Regions from separate parts of the Homo sapiens genome. Here region 1 is linked to region 2. The links come from fine-mapping of genetic effects on gene expression. Tissue or cell type: fibroblasts. Region 2 holds a variant in brackets; the other region holds the start of a gene. All regions are shown on one strand. Distances are from middle to middle.

Region 1 (5,127 bases), 72 kb before region 2:
TTTGAAAATGAGCTCCTTATTGAAGGGGAAAAATAAACCCCAGGACAATAACTTTCGATTGGTGGTCTCCTCTGGGTTCTAACCTTTAAAAGTAGCTCTAAAAGAGTCCATTTTCCACAACAATGATGTTGAGCCCTTGGTTAATTTTAGGAGCATTTTCATTTGGGGGAAACTTCTGTATTGTGACAACATCTTTTTTTGGTTTTATATTTTAAAAATTTGGGGGGACCGGGCACAGTGGCTCATGTCTGTAAATCCCAGCACTTTGCGAGGCCGAGAAGGGTGGATCGCAAGGTCAAGAGTTCGAGAACAGCCTGACTAACATGTTGAGACCCTGTCTCTGCTAAAAATACAAAAATTAGCCAGGGTTGGTGGCACACACCTGTAATCCCAGCTACTCGGGAGGCTGAGGCAGGAGAATTGCTTGAACCCAGGAGGTGGAGGTTGCAGTGAGCTGAGATTAAGCCACTGCACTCCAGCCCAGGCGACAGAGCAAGACTCCATCTCAAAAAAATTTTTTTAAATTTAATTTTTGTAGGTACATAGTAGGTATATTTATGGGGTACACACAATATTTTGATATAGGCACATAATGCATAATAATCACATCAGAGTAAATGGGATATCTACCATCTCAAACATTTATCCTTTCTTTATGTTACAAACCAATTATATTCTTAGTTATTTTAAAATGCACAATTACTGTTGCCTGTAGTTGCCCTGTTTTGCTATCAAATACTATACCTTATTCATTCTATCTAACTATATATATATTTTTTACCCATTACCCATCCCCCCTACCCTTCCCAGCCTCTGGTAACCATCATTCTACTGTCTCCATGAGTTCAATTGTTTTAAATGTTAGCTCCCATGAATAAGTGAGAACATGTGAAATTTGTCTTTCTGTGCCTGGCTTATTTCACTTAACATAATGACCTCTAGTTCCATCTATGTTGTTGCAAATGCCAGGATCTCATTCTTTGTTATGGCTGAATAGTACTCCATGGGTATATGTAACGATTTATCCATTCATCTGTTGATGGACACTTAGGTTGCTTCCAAACCTTGGCTATTGTGAGTAGTGCTGCAATAAACATAGGAGTGCAGGTATCTCTTTGATACACTGATTTCCTTTTTTGGGCATATATACCTAGCAGTGAGATTGCTAGGTCATACGGTATCTCTATTTTTAGTTTTATGAGGAACTTCCATACTGTTCTCCATAGTGGTTATACTTTTTACATTCCCACAAACACAAGGGTTCCTTTTTTTTTCCACAACCTCGCCAGTATTTATTGCCTGAGCACCTTTTCATATACCTGTTTGCTATTTGTATGTCTTCTTTTGAGAAATGTCTATTCAAATCTTTTGCCCATTTATTACTCGGACTATTAGATTTTTTTTTCCTATAGAGTTGTTGGAGCTCCTCATATATTCTGGTTATTAATCCCTTGTCAGATGGATAGTTCCCATTCTGTGGGTTGTCTCTTCAGTTTGTTTCCTTTGCTGTGCAGAAGCTTTTTAGCTTAATATGATCCCATTTGTCCATTTTCTTTGGTTGCCTGTACTGTGACGACATCTTGAAGTTGCGAGTTTGGGGATTGCCTGCCTTGTATATTCTTTTCTGTTACCATCATCTTTAATAGCCACAAATGACTGTTGACCCACATGATATCTGCACTAGAAACCCAAAGATTCCCGTCATTATTTTTGTTGATTATATGGAAGCACCCATAAACCAGCGCAAATCCTAAACATAATTATCTTGTCCAGAAGGAGACATTAATGTAAAACTTATGTCAAGAAAGATTTAGCCACATTCCCTCGGATTGGTCATTCCTAGTTAGAGTCCTTGAGGCTGCCATCGTTTACTTTGAAAACTGCCCAGCAGGTGTATGAATAGCAACTCCAGGACAATGTAGAACCATTACCATTTTAAAGACAGCAATCCCCCTTTTAAAAAACTACTGAGGCCTTCGAAGAAACCACACGGCTGCCTTGGGCCCCAAAAGCTGCGGAAAAGCGCAGTATTCAGTTAAGCAAATAACTACTTACACTGTTTATTTTGGTTACGATTCCTTAAGTGAGAAGTAAATCAATTAACAGGACAAATGACACGATGGTTAGGCACGAAAGGGACAGTGCTGCCACCTCATTAGCTTGGAGCAACCTTCCAGCTCATACCATGCGGACTGATGACTAACCTTGCCAGGCAACGCTGTGAGGTTTGGAAACCCACCTCTTTGACCTAGGCCCGGTCAACACCGATAAACCCTCTGAATCAACGCTGGCGCTCCCAAGCCCACTCACACGCCGTCAGGAAGCAGTTTCCGAAACAGGCCGGGTGCGGGGGTGGGGGATCCCGTTCCAGCCCCACCCCTGAAAGTTGCTGGGAGTGGCACCCAAAGAACTTTCCCAGATTGATCTCTGTTGCCGCTCAGGGAGGTCAGCTCCAGGCCCTCAGCCTTTCGGCCGGGAGCCAAACTGCCCTGCCTGCCAAGCCCCTCCTTCTCTGCACCTTAAACAGCCGCGAGGGGAGAGTCGGCTGGGATTTTCTTCTTAAGAAGTCGCGCAGGTTTTTCGAGCTCCACTCTGCGCCAGGAGAGCCACGGCAGCAGGAACGGGCACTGCTGCCACCGGGCCGACGGGTGAGTCACTGTTTGGAAATGGAGTGGGCGGGCGAGGGTGTGAGAGAATGAATGATGTCAAGAGCGCGCTGGGCGCAGGGCGCAGGGAGCGGGCCGCGCGCGGCGGGCGGGGAGAGCGGGCGCGGGGCCGCGGTCAACACTGAGCGCCGCGCCGTGGGCCGAGTGGGGCGGGGAGACCCAGCCCTCGGCGCGCACGGAGCCTGGCCGGTGCTGCAGCGCCGCCGAGTGCGGCCTCGGGGGCGGCGGCCGCGGGAGGGACCCGGAGAGCTGCTTCCCCTAGTCAGGCCGCGGCGTGGGAGGGCGAGACCCCGAGCAAACTTTCTAGCGGCTTCGGCCCGAGGGTGGTGACGCCCGGGGCTGGTCGCGGCGGCTGCGGCAGCGGGCTCCATCCCCTGGCAAATCCCCTTCCCGGGAGCAAGTGCCTTCAGCTGGGAGTGTCTGGAGCCCTGGCCACCAGCGGGTAAGGAGCGCGCGGAGGGGCCAGGAGGAGGATGGGCTGGGGAGCGGAGAGTCCTCCGAAGCGCGGGAGGGGAAAGGTGGATTGCGAAGCGGGGACGTGGCTCTAATCCGGCCCCCACCCTCCCCGCCCAGGGCATGCTTCCTCGATTTTGTGGTCTGGAGGAGAGATGTGTGCCTTAGTCTCCTTCCTCTGAGCAGTCATCTCATTCATTTGCAACCCATTTCGGGTACCCCGGTCCTGGCGTTGGAAGGGCACAGGTTAAACCCCAGATTGTCCAGAACCACTCCGGAGGTCAGGGCTGAAGTTCAGTTGGTGGAGGAGGGACTGTGTGTGTGTGTTTGTGTGTGTGGTTTTTCTTTTCTTTCTCTTTTTTTTTTTTTTTTTTTTTGAGAGGCACTTACTGATGATGTGTGAACAGTAACAGCCCAGCTCTGGGCAGCCCACACCGAAACCCTTCAACGTGTGGCATTCCAGAGCTGCTCCCTTTACGGAAGGGAAGACTTGGTTTCTCAGCGAAAATAAGGGGCGGGGAACCCCTGTCAACATCCATCCAGAGGTATGGATAATCATTAATTATCCACGGCTTGAAACCAACTCAAAATGTTATGTCCTGTAGTCTTTTTTATTTATTAATGTTGCCGGTCCTCTATTTCAAGTCTTGCCTGCTCTGAAATGACCTTAAAATCATTTTGACATGTGTGTTATATTTTGAAGAGATTCAACTGTTTAGTGTCACTGGATTCGGCGTGGGTTTTCAATCTGTACCTAACTTTTCAAATCCTTGGTTTCATTACCAGTCTCCTCTATTAACGGTGGGTGCTCAGGCACATTAAACATTCTGAACCAGTAAAATGGGATTATAGCTACTTCAGATAATAAGGTGGATTAAATAAGGATTAATAATGAGGATAATAATGAGGATTAAAGCGCAAAAGACTTCTCATAATGTCTGGTACAAAGCAGACCCCAACAAATTATAGCTGTTTATATATAAATAATAGTGTGTTGCAGCTGGCTTAGGTAATAACCAATTAATTTCCACAGAATGTCCTCCTTATAAGCCTGGTGGGCCGAGGGTTAGCATGTGAAATCCTTTGGCAAGTTCCTTAGATTGGGAAGTGATGTTTTCAGCAAGTTAAACATTTTTAGTACGGATACCTGAGAAGGTTATGGTTTCCATCCTGTGTCATGGGAACTGCCATTTACTGTTTAAACAATGTCAGAGCAATGGCTGAAAGTGACAACCTGGAATTTACAGGAAGAAAGGACGTGAGGAAGCTAACTTTACCTTTACCTTTTTTTTTTCCTAAAGAAGCAGTGCAAGCAGTGCAAAATTTCCTCTTTATGGCCCTTTCCTTGGTCTTCTAATGTTCTTACTTCACAATAGTCTGGTTGAAGTGTTTTTTTTTTTAACAAGTTAATGTTTAATTTGGTTCCTTTGGTTTCATTTTTAAGTAAAGCTAGTTGACTTGTGAACCTAGAGGGAAACACTTGGACACCTTGAGGTGGCTGCACCTTGTTCTGAGTTTCTCCCCTCGCAGAATCTCATAAAAGCCCTAGGAAATGTTTGGAAGAAACTTTAGCACTTGTGCACGTTATTGAAGACATTTGCTCTTACCATAACTATAACAACTTACAGGGTGAAAGATCTGGGAGCTGTCCTACGACAGTACCGTGTAGTGAGATCATGGACATGGGAATCCAGGAGACCTGAGGCTCTCTGAGCTGTGTTCCTTTGAGCAAGTTTACTTAAACTCTTTGGGATTTTTGTGGGACTTTAAACAAAATATAGGGGAAAAATAGAAATAATCTTAGAACTATTAAAATAGACAATGGAGTATCAGTGAGAACTTTTTTTAAAAGTGATGCTTTGAGGTGAGATGTTTCTTTTTTAAAGGAATAATTACTGAGAGTTTTGGACAGTTTTAGACTAAACAATGACTTACCCACCTTTAGCGTGTTGTCTCAATGGAGAAATTGAAGGCTTTGTCTTGAACTACTAGTATCAGATATTTATTT
Region 2 (5,213 bases):
AAAACCTCATCAGGTGGCTGGTTTCTGTAGCAGGACTAAAAGACTGCTCTCCTAAATTGAGAACAGCTGGGGCTGTGTGCTAGCAAGTATAAAAGAGGTGGCAGTGGTGCCCCGTGTCCGAAAGAAGTGTGTGCTCTCTGGAGCCTGTGGAGCTGAAGCCAAAGGTAGTTATCCTCATCAGTGTCGTGGTGGGTGAGTCCCCTGAGCTGGTCCTCTGGAGGCCCGTTTCTGTTGTTTGGTAGAAATTGTGGTAGCTGAATCAAAATATTGTTAGTTACTAATTTATCATGCCAATTGTAGTGAGGTATTTTTATCCTTCAAATAAATTCTACTTGTTACCTGCGTGAGAGACATAGCTAAGGCTTGGTGTATCTTTTCAGAGTTATTTTGAAGGCTGCCAGCTTTTCTTGTATATGGTGTGCGTCTCTGAATATAAAAGGATAAACTGAGGCTGTGCCATTTTAAAAATCTTGAATGTGTTGTTCTTGAATCTGTTCTTAAAAGCGGTCACTTAAAAAGACTTCTGTTTTTTAATTAGAAAATAGAAAATTGACTATTTTGACAAATGAAGAGTAACAATTATTCAATGCATATAAGCCTCTTACCAGTTTTTTATTCTTTCTTTATGGCTCATAGAAAATACAGTCTTAGGAAGGATTGATGTGATCTCTGGGTAATTTCTAGCTTATTATGACTTCATGGTTAGCAACAAGTGATAGTGTCTGATGAAGTGTTTGCAATGTTAGGTCCTGATTTTTCTTTAAGGAAATTTAAAGGGAACTGATTGTTAAAATGTTCCTATTTCTACCAATACTAGCTCAAAAAGAGACAAGAATTCCAAGATAAAACTGTTCAGTATTTTGTAAATAAACTTGATCTCAGCAGCTTTAACTAGGTTCTGACGTTACATTTATAAAGCAAATGGCTTTGGTATTTGTTTCCTTAGTTTAAGAATGTTTCTGTTTTGGATGGTTGACAGTTGGACAAGCATAGTTTCTGAACATAATTTTGTTTTGCTTTTAGGTGGGATAGTAACATCTTTTTGAGGGAAGAATTGGCTTCCTTTCTTGAAAGTGGTGAAGGTACAGCATATAGCTGCATGGAAGAAACAGTAATCGGATGGCTACCTTCTACATTTTGTATTAGGAAACAAAGTCCATTGTAAGAGTCCATGTTGATCTTGGAAATAGAAGGATTGAAAAAAGCTAAATTTCCACAAAGAACAAGAACTTGACCATCTCCTTTTTGATCTGAAGACTAGGGGACAATGGATATCATAGAGACAGCAAAACTTGAAGAACATTTGGAAAATCAACCCAGTGATCCTACGAACACTTATGCAAGACCCGCTGAACCTGTTGAAGAAGAAAACAAAAATGGCAATGGTAAACCCAAGAGCTTATCCAGTGGGCTGCGAAAAGGCACCAAAAAGTACCCGGACTATATCCAAATTGCTATGCCCACTGAATCAAGGAACAAATTTCCACTAGAGTGGTGGAAAACGGGCATTGCCTTCATATATGCAGTTTTCAACCTCGTCTTGACAACCGTCATGATCACAGTTGTACATGAGAGGGTCCCTCCCAAGGAGCTTAGCCCTCCACTCCCAGACAAGTTTTTTGATTACATTGATAGGGTGAAATGGGCATTTTCTGTATCAGAAATAAATGGGATTATATTAGTTGGATTATGGATCACCCAGTGGCTGTTTCTGAGATACAAGTAAGTAAATCTAATGTTTTGAGGATTTGTCATGGGTTTGTTTTTGAGTGAATAGATGGGTTATTGAGATTATTTTTCCTTTTTTTCCCCCAATAAATTCAGTCTTACCCAAACATTTGATGAAAGAAAACAGTAGAAAGCTCTACCACATTGAATAAATTCAGTCACTATTCAGTAAGTGTTTGATGAGCAACTGTGTATGAAAGTGGCAGTGTACAGCAGTACTGTGGTGGATGACTCAGAGTTGATGAATTTAAGGTGCAGTTCCTGACTTCCAGCAACTTGGTGCTATGGTATTTGTATGATAAATCAAGAGGCTTGGAAAGGAATAACATTCACTCCCATCATGTTTGTTATTTCAGGCTCTTGACAAGTGGGAAAAGGAATAGGTTGAGAAACTTTTTTCTCCATTACTCATAATGTGATGTCTGTATTGGTCTAGAGTCAATAGCCTGCTTTAAGGTTTGCCTAGATTCAATTCTCAAATTTTACATTTCTGTGGGGCTGGGTGTGTGGATGTGGTTTCGGTTTTTTGTTTGCTTGCTATCTAGTTACAAGTGTTTAAGAGACTGAGTTTAGAACCAGATCCATGCGGTTTTGATTTTTAGATTTCTAAAGTAAACTTGCCCTCTGATTTTCCTTGGACACCACAAAGGAGCTCATGGTTCACTGGGTTCAGCCTCCTCATTTTTGGAATAGTAGGAAATCAAGAAGAAATAAGTCAGGTACTTTTGCTTTGAAGACACTTAAGAATTGGACATAGCCCTGAAGTGGTTATTTCTGCTTCTCTATGTGAATTCTGACTCCTAGTCCATAAAAACGAAGGCTCCTTAATTCCTCCTTTCCTCTCATTCATCATTTAGACATTTGTTTTCCACTGGGATGGTAGTGATTAAATCACTAAAATATGATTTTGATCAAAACACTGACCATAATACAGAGTTTAAAAATGTAATGTATGCTAACTTGGATACAATCTGAA[C/G]ATTCCAAGTCAAATAGGATTTCAGTATTAATGCCACAAGATCATTCTTAGAGAATTTTGGCTGTATTGTTTTTTAGTTGGTAACACTTTTCATTACTTGATCAATTATAGAACTCTCAATGTGGTATATCCACTCAGACCCTAACACTGTTACTGTTTTGTGATTAGAGGAATTCAGTCTATCTTTGTTAAAGAGTTCCCCAAATGCAACTTTGCAGTCTTAAAACCTTATTCCACAAACTGCAGTCATTCCTAAGCATTTTCCTTAATATAACTCTTCATGTGTTTCCTTAATATGCTTAAGTAATAGACTTAGCTATGAGTTGTCTTTTACTTAAAAAAGTAACCTGCTCCTGAAATTGTTAAAGGATGCTTTATGCTAAAAGCAAAAAATGTATTTATGAACTTCAGTGTTTTTCTCTTTAGTGTCTGGAAATTAACACAATGTAAGAGCCTGCTAAGGCGGCAGATAATTTGCTTTCTCCTTTATTTAGAGCAAGGTTTTATTGATATATGTGTGAAAAGAGAAATTGTCCAGAATCTGGTAAGTATGTGGACTCCACCCTGAAGTACAGTCTTTCCCTCAATTTAGCTGTATTTTCATCTAGATCCTTTTTGAATTTTCATTAGATAGTTATTATTAACTGCCTCTACCTACCACCTTAGATTTTCAACATGTCCAAACACACGGTCACATAGCCAGACCATAAATTTTAATGATATCCACTGTTTCAGTCGCAATTCACACAAGTTTGCCTTTTTACATTTGAAGTAGAATTGGATCTTACATTTTAGTAACTAGTAGAATAATTTTTATAACCTGTTTTGAACATCCCAGCTGAATGAGGAATGTTGCTTGCTCTCTCTTTTAAAAGCACCTTTCAAAGCTATGGGAAAAAGTCATTAGCACTAGTTCTTTTTCTAAATAAGGCTGTAGAGTACATCTTTCACCTTCTAAGTTGGTTTTCTGTTCTGAGTACAGCTGAACTCAGAATGCTGGAATGAATGTAATTGACTCATAATAATTTCTGCTTATTACTTCCCCTTGTCTAACAGCATGGAGCACAATTCAAAACAGCACTCTGTTGGAACCTGAGGTTGGATCAAAGGCTAAATTGGTTTTCCCTTAACCAAGGGAAGAAACTCAGCACTGTTTATTACCTGCTCCTTTTTAGTACCAGGAAAGGCAGAACTAGAATAGCAAGCCTTTAAAGAAATTCCTTGGGGATAAATAAATACTCTCATCTACTAGTCTAGGTGGTGTTCCCTTCTATTTTTTTTTTGACCCCAGAAACCTTGGAATATTCTTAAAATAGCTGTTGGAAACAGACAGCTGAAATATATATTTATACATAATTCTTGAAATTAGAAGTTCCAAATGTTATCTGAATTAGACCTTGATTCATGTCAGAACCACAATCTTAGGGAAAACTTAAAATATGTCACATTACCTGAAACTGCCTGTTTTTTCAGAAGTCTTTGATCACTACCAGTCTTGAAAGCTTGAGACCTCTGAAAATGAGAGACCTAGAGTAATATGTTTTATGCAGTAATGAAGTTACACCTAGCAAGTCTAGGGGCTTTATGTGGAGTCCCACTCATCTCTTAATCCCCAGAGCCCAGAGCTGACAGACCTAACTATACAACAGAAAAGGAGCTGTCCTGTTCAGCTGGACTAAAGACATTCAGACCCATGATGCCCATTCAGATACCCATGAGGCAATGGTACAGTGGCAGAGCCCTTCCCTTTTGAAGACAGGATCCTCCGTCATCCACTGGGAAGCCTGCCTCAGGCTGAGGACTCAGGTCATGAAGCACAGGGGCTGATGTTAGGACAACGTTCTTCTCACAAAAATATAAAGTGAAAAATGACTTGTGGGATTTTTTTATCCTTTTTTTGATCAAGATTGAATGAAATAATCAGCTTACACATTCACTATTAAATGTAATTAACTGTATGAGAACACTTTGGACATTTTCAAGATAGAGTTTTTTGAAAATCTAGTCATAGAGAAAATAGTTCATGCCCGTATTGTCAAAATACCTTCAGATGGTCCTCAAATAAACCCTGCTTATATACCGTGGGCTAAATGTGTTGTCACATTTCCCTATGTGTCTAATTATGTAATGTCACCTTGGCTCATTAGTTAATTCCTCTGTTACTGTGGCTTGCTTATTCCTTTCATATGTTCTCAAGAAAGGGTTTTAATGCAGTGAGTTGACTGAAAATACAGACAGGTTCATTCTCTGGCAAAGAGTGCTTTTGAGGAGAGGTGACTATGTAGACTCTTCGTCTACTTTAGTTCCCCCACCCCACACACACACATCCTTTGGAAGCCAAACCACCTAGATTTATTGCAGTATGTGAATCTTCATTTCTGAAAACTGTGGTGCAAATCTCTCCATGAAACTGTAGGGATGGGCAACTCAAAAGTAAGCCTTTAAACTCTGTGAAACTGTGGTTTGTTTGTTAATGCCATTCTGTACTGATTATTCTTTATCCTGTTAA

Alleles and levels. Alleles are on the strand shown, and positions count from the first base shown. SD is a standard deviation of normalised expression in the study named.
With allele G in place of C in region 2, the expression in fibroblasts of the gene that starts at base 2,787 in region 1 is lower (moderate effect, 0.47 SD a copy in GTEx).

The links. PIP is the estimated chance that this variant, and not a neighbour inherited with it, causes the effect.
Region 1: it holds the start of SGMS2, and the variant in region 2 is fine-mapped to the expression of SGMS2 in fibroblasts (GTEx, PIP 0.93).

The regions. Positions count from the first base shown.
Region 1 is chr4:107,822,146-107,827,272 of GRCh38, forward strand. SGMS2 (sphingomyelin synthase 2) reads left to right here and starts at 2,787. Exons shown (of 7, transcript NM_001375905.1): 1 at 2,787-3,108. RefSeq lists an enhancer at 5,005-5,127.
Region 2 is chr4:107,894,287-107,899,499 of GRCh38, forward strand. It overlaps SGMS2 (sphingomyelin synthase 2), which reads left to right. Exons shown (of 7, transcript NM_001375905.1): 3 at 1,024-1,722. The coding sequence starts at 1,268. All of the region lies in intron 1 of CYP2U1-AS1 (CYP2U1 and SGMS2 antisense RNA 1), which reads right to left. Among named protein-coding and RNA genes, the nearest start is that of CYP2U1, 35 kb to the right of the region's middle. The variant C/G (reference allele first, on the strand shown) is at 2,705.